2 separate regions of the Homo sapiens genome follow, and region 2 is linked to region 1. The links come from fine-mapping of genetic effects on gene expression. A gene starts in region 1. The other region holds a variant in brackets. All regions are shown on one strand. Distances are between the middles of the regions. Region 1 holds the start of ZNF664 (zinc finger protein 664). Region 2 overlaps CCDC92 (coiled-coil domain containing 92).

Region 1 (5,368 bases):
CTGCATGACAGACCTTCAAATATTTGAAGACAATTAGGACACAGCCACTTCCGTGCCCAAATCCTTCTGCAGGTTGAAACATCAAAGCTGAAGATGTGGAAACTGGTGTCATTAAGTTAGCACCTACCTAGCCGGGATGAAACTTCAATCTGACTCAAACATTTACTGCAACATTGGTGTGTGAAGATACAAAGTCACCTAGTCACTGCCCTTGAAGGACATGGAATTCAGTAAATTCAGTAGATATAATTAATCTTAGTTACCAAATGTGTGCCCACTATGTATTAGAAACTATTTATGGCTGACCTTGTTCCAGATAGAAGGAAAAAAGTTCCATGACTTTTCTTGCCAGAAATACGAGAAAATGCTTTTTTAACATAAGTATTTTTTAAAAGCATCAACATTTTATTAACGTTAGTATCGTTGCAAAGGCATCCTACCAATTAGGTAATTATGTTGAGATCAATTTATCCAAAGATAATTGGATAAGTTGAGATCAATTTATCCAATTTTGCAATTTATCCAACATGGCAGATGAAAGAGTTATAAACCCAAGATGAATGATTCGTTTTTTAAAGAGTTAATAAAAATATCTAATTTCAAAAAAACCCTATTTGTTAGACCGATGTATTTAAAATGTGTCACAGTAAAAATCTCACACAAATAATTGTCCTGTACTTTAGATCTTAAATGTACCTAAACTAAATTTACTGAGTAATTATAATACGCAGAGGAGTAACAAAACTATTTTAAGATTTTTCAGTGGTGTGTATGGATATGTACGCATACCCGTATATATAATCACGAGTTTTAAAGCCTTCTTCCAAGCATATTTCACATAAGATGAACAGTTAGCCAAAAGAATTACATACATTTCAAAACATCTTTGGAGGTAAAAGCCACTTTAAACGTTAGCATCTTTTTCCTTACAATGCAATAGCGAGAAAATGCATGGGAATTCTTGATGAGCAAAAAAAAAAAAAAAGAAAAGTCGTTTTATCAATACCAATGCTCTTTAAATAAATTTCAAACGTAAAAGTTTTAAAATGGCAATCCTAGTTTTAATACTCTTACAGGTTTCTGGAACTGCGTAATATGTTAAAGTATTACAGCGTGGTAGCTTGCATTTTGTTATAAAACCGACTACTGCAACCTAAGCTACAGAGCGCGGTTATATTTTCTCTCTGGCAGCCTAATTTTCCTTAGTGGACTAGATCGTACTGCTAAATACCAAAACTTGAAATGAAACAATACAGGTCAGCATGAAAACCTAAGTTAGAGAAACTCACTCGCCGTAGCAGACGGCAGCCCAGTAGCCAAGCCTGGAGCTCTGCTGCGTTTGTGCATTCTGCTCCGTTTCACGAATCACAGGCAAATCGTTACTCAGAGTAAACTAAAGCCGCATCAAAGCTTCAGGAAGGGGCTGGCAAGGTAGTGTACTTACGGAAAGGCTACCAGGACGGGAGGCGATACAACTTGTCAGGGAGGGTCTCTAAGGTTCCCCGGGTGGTAACAAGCATTTAAAAAGGCGATGTGGATTCAGACGGCCTCCTCCCCACAGCATCCCAGACAAAGCCGGGCTAGGCCCCGGGGCGCTCCTGGTGCACCTGCAATGCGGATCCCTCGCCCTGCGATCCCACCCCGGGGCAGACAGGAGCGCCCCGGGACCGGCCTCTCCTCCCCCTTGGCACTGGGGTGGGCGCGCGCCGCGGCCGGTCCGCACCCTGGACTGGAGCCCGGGCCGGGGAGCCCCCTCCCCAGAAAGGGCCGGCAGACCCCGCGGGGGCGGGCGCGGGGGTCGCCGAGCCTCAGGGACCCTCTTTCCCCGACTCCGCCGTCTCCCGAGTTGCCTTCGCCCGGGGCCACCCCTGCCCCTGGGGGAGCTAACGTGGCTCCCAAGCCCCGGAGGTGGGGCAGGAGGACCCCGTCCCCCGTCTCCCGGCGGGGAGGGTTTTTAAAGTCTTCGCCACGAACTCCCGTCCCTGCCCGGCCCCTCCGCCCCTGCCCGGCCCCTCCGCCCCCGCCGGCGCTGCCAGGTGAGCGGGGCCGGACTCGACACACCCCGGGCCCCGCCTCACCTGCGGGCGCCGCCGTCGCGTTCCTTCAGGCGGCTGCCCTCTTAGGCTCGGTCCTCCCGGCGGGCGGCGGTGGGGGCCCGTGGCCCATGGGCTGGGCGGGGCGCGGCGGGCGGGGCTGCCTGGGCTCGGGCGCTGCCCGGGCCGGGCCGCCGAGGGAGGTCAGTGGGCACCGCCCGCCCGGCGCATCTCGCCCGCTCCCACCCCAGCGCTAGCCGCGGTGCACCCTGGGAGCGGGGCCGGCGGCGAGGCCTGGCCGCGCTGACCCGGCGGGCTAGGCGCCGGCGCGGCGGCGGGCCTGTGTCTGCCGGGCTGGGCGGGGGCGGCGGGCCGATATTCACTTGGCGAGGCGGGGCTACGCCCCCTTCCGCCCGGCTGTGGCGGGGCAGGGGCGAAGGCCGAGGGGAAGGGAGGGTCGGGCCCGCGGGACGCAGGCGCACAGCTCAGGTGCGGCCGCACTGCGGTTGCCCTGGGTAACGCGGCCCGAGGGAGGGGGGGGCGCGGGGAGGAGCGAGGGAGGCGAGCGGGAGCGCGCGCGCCGGGCGCTGGGGTGGGGGATGGCCGGGCCCGACCGGGCCGGGGCTGGGGGGCGGGGGCGGAGGCGGGCGGTGGGGGCGCGGGCCGGGTGGCCGCGCATGCGTGCGGCCCCCGCTCCCCCGGGGCTTCCCCGGCCTCGTGCGTGCGCACGCGCGCTGTCCCCCGGAGGCGTCTGGGTGTGCGGAGCGCGCGCGCGCGCGGCTCGGAGGCGCACCTGTGAGGTGTCCCTGAGGAGAGGGAGGTGGGTGCGCGGCGCCCGCGGCCTGGGGCGCTGACTCCCCTCACTTGGAGTGAGTTCTCGGCGGCCGGGCTGCAGTCTTTCTTTCTTTCCCGGAGGGAGGCGGGGGCCGGGGGCCAGGGAGCGGGCTGGGGGTGGGAAGGAGGTGGAGTGGCTTAAAGAAAAGAAAAACAACCCATCCCGGAGGATGGGCCTCGGGATGGCGGGGAAGGTCAGAGCGGCTCCGCGCAGCCTGGCGGGTCCCGGGCTGAGAAGCCGCCCCTCGGGCCTCGGGCGGTCGGCCGCGGGCCCGCAGTGCGGGGGAGCGGGGCCGGGGGGCGCAGATGGCGGCCGGTGCGAGCGAGGGCTGGGCAGCGGGCAGGGCGAGGCCGGGCGAGGCCCCTCGGGAGCCGGACTCCCGAGCCAGGCTCCATTGTTGTTGGAGCCGAGGGAAGGGGGAGCGCTGCCGCCCTCGTCGCCCGTGGAGCCGCGTCTTGGAGCCCTTCCAGGCGGGTCCCGGGAGAGGCGGTCATGGCCGCGCCAGGGGACCGGGGAGCCGGGCGGCTGCGGAGGAGCCGGCTGCATGGGGTGCTGTGTGTTTTTCAGGGCGCCCTGCGTCCGGCAGAGGAGGCGAGCATCCCGCTCAGGTGATGAGGAACCCCTCGCGCACCCAGCGCAGAAGGCTGCTGCCGCCGGACGCCTCCATTGTTTGACCACAACAAGGGCCGGATTCTCACCCAGGTAAACCGGCTGCCGGCGCTGTCCACTTCCCTCTGACTCCCGCCTCCGCAGGCGTTCTCACCCCTTCCAGGACTCGACTGCAGTTTTCTCACTGTCCCCGGCTTCTCATGAACTCCGTATACCCCCTCCCAGACATTTTCCCGTCCGGATCCATCTCTCCGCCACATCACCTCTCATTTCCCCCAGAACTCAGCTCCTTTGTGAAACCTTTCTTGCCGAACTCTAACAACTAAATCTCCCCGGGAGCCTGCTCCGAACTGAACTGTTCTGGTTGCTAGATTGCTTACGGGCTGTCTTATTGCAACAAAGGAGACCAGATACCGAAAAAAGATTTCTGAGCTATTGCCTTCTTCAAGGAACGTTTTCTGATATTTACAGTTTATTGTTTTCACAGGCTGGAACGGTTTTTAGGCATTTTGGCTTCTTATTTAGAGAGGGCTCCTATTTCCTTCATAGACGCATAGTTTTTTAGAGCAGGAAATTGACCTTGTTCAACCCGCAGGTTAATTAAAAATTTAAAAATTAATTCTAAATTAGCAGAGTAGTACATTTTCTTTGTAAAAACAGCATATCACAGAGATGGCATTTTGTCTTTGACTATCAACCTCTGTCTTCAGGGATGCCGACTATTATGTGTGTGGTGTTTATCCTTCTAGATCTTTTGGAGTACTTTTACGTGTGTGCACTTAACATCATTTTTGACTGCTTTAACAAGGACTGTTGCACCGTAACTTTCAATGTTAGCATGTAATGCTTCAAGTCATTTTTTAACAACTGCTGCACCATGTTCCATAGTTTCAGTATATCATGGTTTAGCCATTTCCCAAATTGATAGCAGTTTAAGTTTTAACTTTAAAACAGCTTTTTTGCTGGTGGTGGTTCTCTGATGAGATGAAATTTCGGTGATAGGAGCACAGATCTACGCTAATTATCGAGATTCGGCATTTATGATGAAGTTCTCTTTTGGTTAAGAAATTGATATGTGGAAGCAGCCACCCCTCCCCTATGGTAGTTCTGACTCTAGCAGTTAGAAGTTGTGTGACCTTGGGGAGGACATTGAATCACACCAAACCTCGGTTTTCTTTTCTGTAAATGGCCTGCTCTGTCTGCTCCATAGAGTTCAGTGATACAGTGCGTATGTGTTGTGGAATGTAAAGTAGTATATATAAAGGTTGGTTTTATTAGCCTTTGTGATCCAAAAATTATTTGCAATATCATTTATATTTTTTGACCAGATGTGTGTGTATCATATCACAGAGCACTACAGATAGTCAACTTTGAATGCTTTTTAATTTGTGACTTTTTAAATTAATTTTTATCAAGTACTGACAATACATTAGTCTTCTTAACAATATTTTGCAAAGCATTTTTTCCTAGGGCTTTCTTTTCTTCCTCTTCATTAAAAAAAAAAAAAAAGAGAGAGAGATAGGGTCTCTTTCTGTTGCCGTGGCTGGAGTGTAGTGGCATGATTCTAGTTCACTGCAGCCTGGGACTCCTGGGCTCAAGTGATCCTTGTGCCTCAGCCTCCCCAGTAGTTAGGAATGACTACAACCATGTGCCACCACACCTGGCTGATTTATTTTATTTTTGTAATGACAGGCTCTTACTATCTTGCCCCAACTGGTCTCAAACTCCTGGCCTAAAGCAGTCCTCCCAAAGTGTTGGGATTACAGGTGTGAGCCACTGTGCCCAGCCCCTAGTGGTTTTACATACCTTAAAAAATAAGGCATATAAATTAGTTGACTGTGAATAAACATATTAGCAAACTGAACACTAGACAATACTCGCACTATAATAT
Region 2 (5,368 bases), 31 kb before region 1:
CCACCTCTTGTTCTGTCTCTATTGTACCCTCTGTCCTTGCCCTAACTCCAGACCTGCACGCCCAGTTTCCCTGTACCAACTCCACCACCCAGGGCCTGCCTAGGCACTGGACGCCACTGGACGTCTTTCCCGGGCTTCTGTCTGTCTTGCTTTGAATTTTCCCACCTGCCTGAGCTAGCAGCAGCTCTGCAGCATGTCCCGCCGCCAGACTCTGAGCTTTTGAGGGCCCACAGCTGACTGGACTGGTCTTGTGCAGGACACTTGCATGTTACAAGCTCGCTGCAGGTGATGGGCGCTCCTCGACTTAGCATGGGGTCATGTCCCGAAAAATCCAATGTAAGTTGAAAATACCGTAAGTCAAAAGTGTGTTTTCGATATTTTCAGCTTACCATGGGTTTATCTGGACATATCCATGGTAAGTCGAGGAGTGTACTGAATGGGTATTGCCCCATGCAGTTGAAAAATTTTAAGTTGAACCATTGCAAGTTTCTAGTTTTAAAAACCATGTGTCTGTGTGTGTATGTGCAGGTATAATGTCAGCAAATGACCTCCCTAAAAAGGATGCATGCAGTACTACCTTTCATGAGGTTTCTTCTTTTGCCAAAAGGAAAATAGATCCTAAAACACAGTTTCAGAGGTAGAGAGAGGGACAGAGACACACACACGACTCTGTAGACACTGTAAGACCCAGGAGCCCAGCCACCTGGGCTGAACCCCTGCAACCTGAAATGCTGACCTGGGCACGGCATTGGGCCTGGTACCCGCTGTCCTTCCCCCAGGGCCTGTGGGACAACAACCCATGCCTGTCGCAGGGCCTTTGCTTTCAGCCCACACTCGGGTGGACAGTGGGCCTTGGGCTCCTTCCGAGGAAGGGCTGCAACCTCAGACCTTCAACCACATCCCTGGCCTGCTGTGAGCATCCTGGGATTTTTCTTCCCCCAGGCAGTGCTGCAAAAGGCTGATGGACGTTTGGAACATTCAGGAACAAGGCTGTCCCTGGGCTTTGCTCATGTCCTGTGAGGGGCAGCCCACAAAGGCAGAGGGCCCTGGTGGTCGGACTGGGGACTTGGATTTGTGGGGCACCTGTCAGATGAAGATGCAGGTTCAGAGATGTCAAAGAACCTGCCCAAGGCCACACAGCCCCTCCGAGTCAGAGCAGAGGCCCAAATCTGGGGCTCATTAAGCATCACTCTGGTTCTTTTCGCCACAGCATCCTGAGAGAAGCTCCTCCTGGATAGACATCCTCCTCATCATCCTTCCTTGAGAGTCATCTAGCTGTGCTGCCTCCTCCTCCAGGGTGCAGCCTTGGCTCCGGGCTGATGTTTACCGGCCCCGACTTGAGTGGGCCGTCCTGTGGGAAGGAGCTGGTACGACTGCTCCTCCATCCCCAGCTCTGGAGAGCTGCTTCAGTGACTGTCCTTCCCAGGAATCAGCACCTCCTGTTTTGCCAATTTCTTGCTCTTTATAGAAAGCTCCACTCCACCTCCTCCTCTGTACGTACCCCCTTTCTGGAAATTTCAGTCTTCCCATGAAAGCTTGGTGCACACTGAGCTGACAGCAGCCAACTGCTGCTGGTCTCCAAACGCTGCACTGCTGAGCCTGCCCGAGCGTCAGGGCACTGCAACGCTTCTAAACCTGCGCACTCCCTGGGCCCGCCCAGACTTCTGGGGTCACAGCCCCCAGGGGAGGGAAGCCAAGAGTCTATGCTGTACCCTGGGTCCCGAAACTGCTTGGAATTGGGCAGTTTTGGGTGCACTAATGTAAAACAATGATTTTCACCACTGGGAGGGGAGACGCCCCGACTGGAACCACCTGAGAGGCTTTTGAAACTGCCTCCCCTAAGACACAGCCCTTGCTGTGAGACCCTGCTGCTGCTGGGAGTACTACATCAGGTGGGTGGGTGGGTGGGCAGGTGGCCTTGGGACCTCAGGTTGAGAACCGTGACTGGAGAGGCCACAGGGCAAAACTATGCTGCTTCAGATTAGCCTGGGCCAGGAGAGGACAGGGAGCGAGGACGCCCTGGCTTCCATGACACGGGTAGCTCCTTTCCCAAGGCTTCAGTGCTGGCAGGTGTGGACGCTGGAGGTCCCTAGTGTCAGGCTGAAATCCTGTTCCTCTGCATTCCCACAGGCCCAGCTCCCAGTCCCAGGGCTTCGGGGGAGGTCCCTGGTATCCCTCCACAGGGAGACTTCTGAGGACAGGCTCCCATTCCACCACCCCAAGAAGCCCACGGCGCCTTCCCTACCACACGCAGACAAAAAGATGTCTGGGCTCCTGGGTGGCGCACTCAGGAGGCTGTAATATGAGCAATGCAAATGGAAAAAAATCAGTGCTCGGTAATCCACTAAGGCTTGGTGGAAATGGTCTGTGTCTTTTACAAGGAACTGGACACTCTCATGAATAGTAACTGCCATTGTGAGGCCTGTTTAGAAAAAGGCATTGTGGGGAATGGAGAAGTTCTTCAAAGTTTCTTGAAACCATAAAGAGCTTGTCATTTCCTTGCTCTATGTATATCTCTATATATGTTCCAGTGTAGCTGCTCCGCCTTGCCCCGGCACGCCTGCGCAGGGCTGAGCGAGCCCTGGACCATAGTGCATGCTCTTCCTTATTTGGAAACTCTCCTGACCCTCTCATGACTAGCTTCCTCTTTTCTTTGTCCTCTTTCCCTTTTGCCTATTTAGGAAAGTTTCAAGCTGTTAGCCAATCGGGTCAAGCTTAGAATGTGAGGTCCCATTCCAGTCAATGGAAACTGGACACAGTCATAGGGCAATTGCATCAGGTTATGAAGATTATAAATGTCCTCGTCTCCTTTGTTTGAGTGTGCTCTCGTGGTAAGACTGCTGGCGAGTTGCACCCTTTC[T/A]GCAGAAAGTAAACTAGCCTTGCTGAGCCATCCATTGCCTTCCCGACGTGATAAACCCGTTTCCAACAGGTGTCTCTGCACAAACATGGATTCAGCACTTTCCAAACACCCACCCTGTTTTAGGGAGCAGGCTCTTTGCAGCAGGCACAGAGGGCCCTGGGAAGGCCTGGGTTTCTGTCTCTTCTCTGGCGGCCAGCAGGCAGCTGCCCTTTGGGGTTTCCTGAGGTCCTGGAGGATTCTGGTTTGGGGAGGGTTCTGGGGCTGTAGTCCAGAGAAAGCCCCAGATCCTCAGGGAGCTGTCTAGTAATGTGACCACTCGCCCGCCAGCATTTAGCAAGCTGCTGCTCTGTGCCAGGCCCATGCTAGGCGGCAGCGACACGGAGGAGCGGGGGCGGTTCTGCCCAATGCTGCTGCTGCTGTTACTCCTCCTTTTGGGTTTAACTCACGTCTATTTTTATGTCCTGATTACACAAGGAACACATGTTCATTGTAGGAAAATCAGAAAAACATATAATAGGCATTCCAAATATATGTGTCATTCAAAAGAAAACAAAATCACTCATCCCCCTGCCCACTAATAACCACTTGCAACACGGAGGGATCCAAACATCCTTCTCATCTTCTCTTAGAGAGCTCAGGCCACACGCATAACTCTTCCCAGCAAGAGCATTTTCTCCTAAGTGTGTGACTAGTGAAAACGGCACCAACACGTACCACAAAGGGAAACCTACTGTCATTTACTTCTGGGGAGGAGTTCTTACCTGTCTGTTCCGAACTTTTGACTGTCAGCTCATATGTTAAATCTAAAAGGGAAATGTTACACATTAATTCTTTTACTGTACATTTCAAAATCTTCATCAGCTTTGAAAATGCAAAACCGATTCCCACGATTAGCCAGCGAGTCCTACCCAGACAGAGCAGGGTTTGGCAGCAGGAGAGGTGAGCATGAGAGCAGCAGAAAACATCTGCGGCCACTGTGCTCCCTGGGGTCAGAGGGCACCCTCTGTTCCCCCAAACTCCCTTCCCCATTCCCCCACAGCATATCCCAACCATCCAAACCAAACAATCCAGCAGCTGGCTCTATGTATCACACAGGCTATATCTTGGTTATCAGTTCCAAAACACATTGGAGATTCTAACCATTGTATTTTAATCTCTTAAGTCCTCAGTATGCCAAGAAAAGGCTTTGCAGCTTTATGCTTAGTGCATCTTGATTATGCAATGAGGATGATATAAGGCATTCAGATGGACTCCTGCAACGATGATGGGAGCTGGGGGCAGGGCAGGCCTAGCACATTCTGACGCTGGGCTCTGCCGTGCCCCATAGCCGCCCCCCGCCTGCCCGGGCCTGCTCCCCGATGTACCTGTGCAGTGCTGCTGCAGCCGCCTGATCTCGGAGTGCAGCCCCTTGAGCGTGCTGGCATGCTCCCGCTGAAGGAACAGGAGGTTCTTCTGTGCGCTGTGCAGCTGGTTCTCCAGGTTTGTGGCTGCCATGCTGACATCCAGAGGACCTGTGGGTAACACAGACCCTGGCTGCGGTGCCTGAAGAGGGTCCCAGGGCTGCCTGCCCTCCTTGGCTCTGGGTGCAGAGGGGTGTGCGCCTCCCAGGAGAGAGCAGAAGGAAACCACGGCTCCTGAAGGGCAGGGTGTGGGGGCACCAGGGCTACATTCCCATCACTGCAGGGAGGCCCCAGGCCAGGGACGGCAGCCTCTGCTTCCCGAACGCCTTGGGGTGTGCCCTAGCACCTAGCACGATGCCTGGCACATGAATGAGTGAGGCCCACTCCAGAGTACAAAGTCATTTCCCTTTACTCATGAGGAAACAGATCAAGAGAGGCAGATTCGCGAGCCTGGGGTCACACAGCCAGTGAGGTATGGAGCAGGGATTCTAATCCAGGGACCCTTGGTTCCAAATCCTGTCCTCTCCACGCACCACCTCACCCCAACAGACTGTGACTGACCAAATCACGCCCAAAAGATTTCCCTGACCAGGAAGCACTGACAGCTTCCTCATGGGAAAAGCTGGCACCTGGGAAATGGGCCAAACATTTCCTCTAAATGGCATCTGGAGCCAGCCAAAGTAGGAGGGAGAGATGGGCTGAATTCCAGAGGGAAGCCCCCTGCACTTCACAGCACTGAGAGGAGCCACAGATCCTTCTTGGGAAGGTCTGAGAACGTATCTCATGGGGCCAGGGGGTGGTGCAGGTGTCTGGAGTCTGTCCCCAATGCTTGGCCCCTCCCAGCCCCAGCTTCCAGCATCTGATGCTCACTCAGGGCCCCAGACTCTACCTTCATCGTAACTCGAGAAATGTGGTGAAGTCATGGGTCTTTCTGGAAAAGCTACCAGAGTAATTCAAGACGCTTGTACAGCACTGAAAAATACTGAGGATGAAATGTGAGTTATTTGCTTATAAATTATTATTGTAAATACAGAACCTCAGAATGCATTTTCCCTAATTTGCTATTCCAGAGAACCCTCCGTAAAGGAGGTACAACTTCTCAATGGCT

What was found. PIP is the estimated chance that this variant, and not a neighbour inherited with it, causes the effect.
Region 2: its variant is fine-mapped to the expression of ZNF664 in whole blood (TOPMed, PIP 0.99).

Annotation. Positions count from the first base shown.
Region 1 is chr12:123,970,451-123,975,818 of GRCh38, forward strand. It overlaps ZNF664 (zinc finger protein 664), which reads left to right and starts at 2,765. Exons shown (of 5, transcript NM_152437.3): 1 at 2,765-2,902; 2 at 3,436-3,570. CCDC92 (coiled-coil domain containing 92) reads right to left here and starts at 2,381. Exons shown (of 5, transcript NM_025140.3): 1 at 2,079-2,381. It overlaps ZNF664-RFLNA (ZNF664-RFLNA readthrough), which reads left to right and starts at 2,765. Exons shown (of 5, transcript NM_001347902.2): 1 at 2,765-2,853; 2 at 3,436-3,570. RefSeq lists enhancers at 1,128-1,865, 1,866-2,603 and silencers at 1,824-1,943, 1,974-2,843, 2,914-2,993, 3,104-3,333.
Region 2 is chr12:123,939,123-123,944,490 of GRCh38, forward strand. It overlaps CCDC92 (coiled-coil domain containing 92), which reads right to left. Exons shown (of 5, transcript NM_025140.3): 2 at 5,150-5,242; 3 at 4,225-4,371; 4 at 3,622-3,663. The coding sequence starts at 5,183. Among named protein-coding and RNA genes, the nearest start is that of DNAH10OS, 6.8 kb to the left of the region's middle. The variant T/A (reference allele first, on the strand shown) is at 2,861.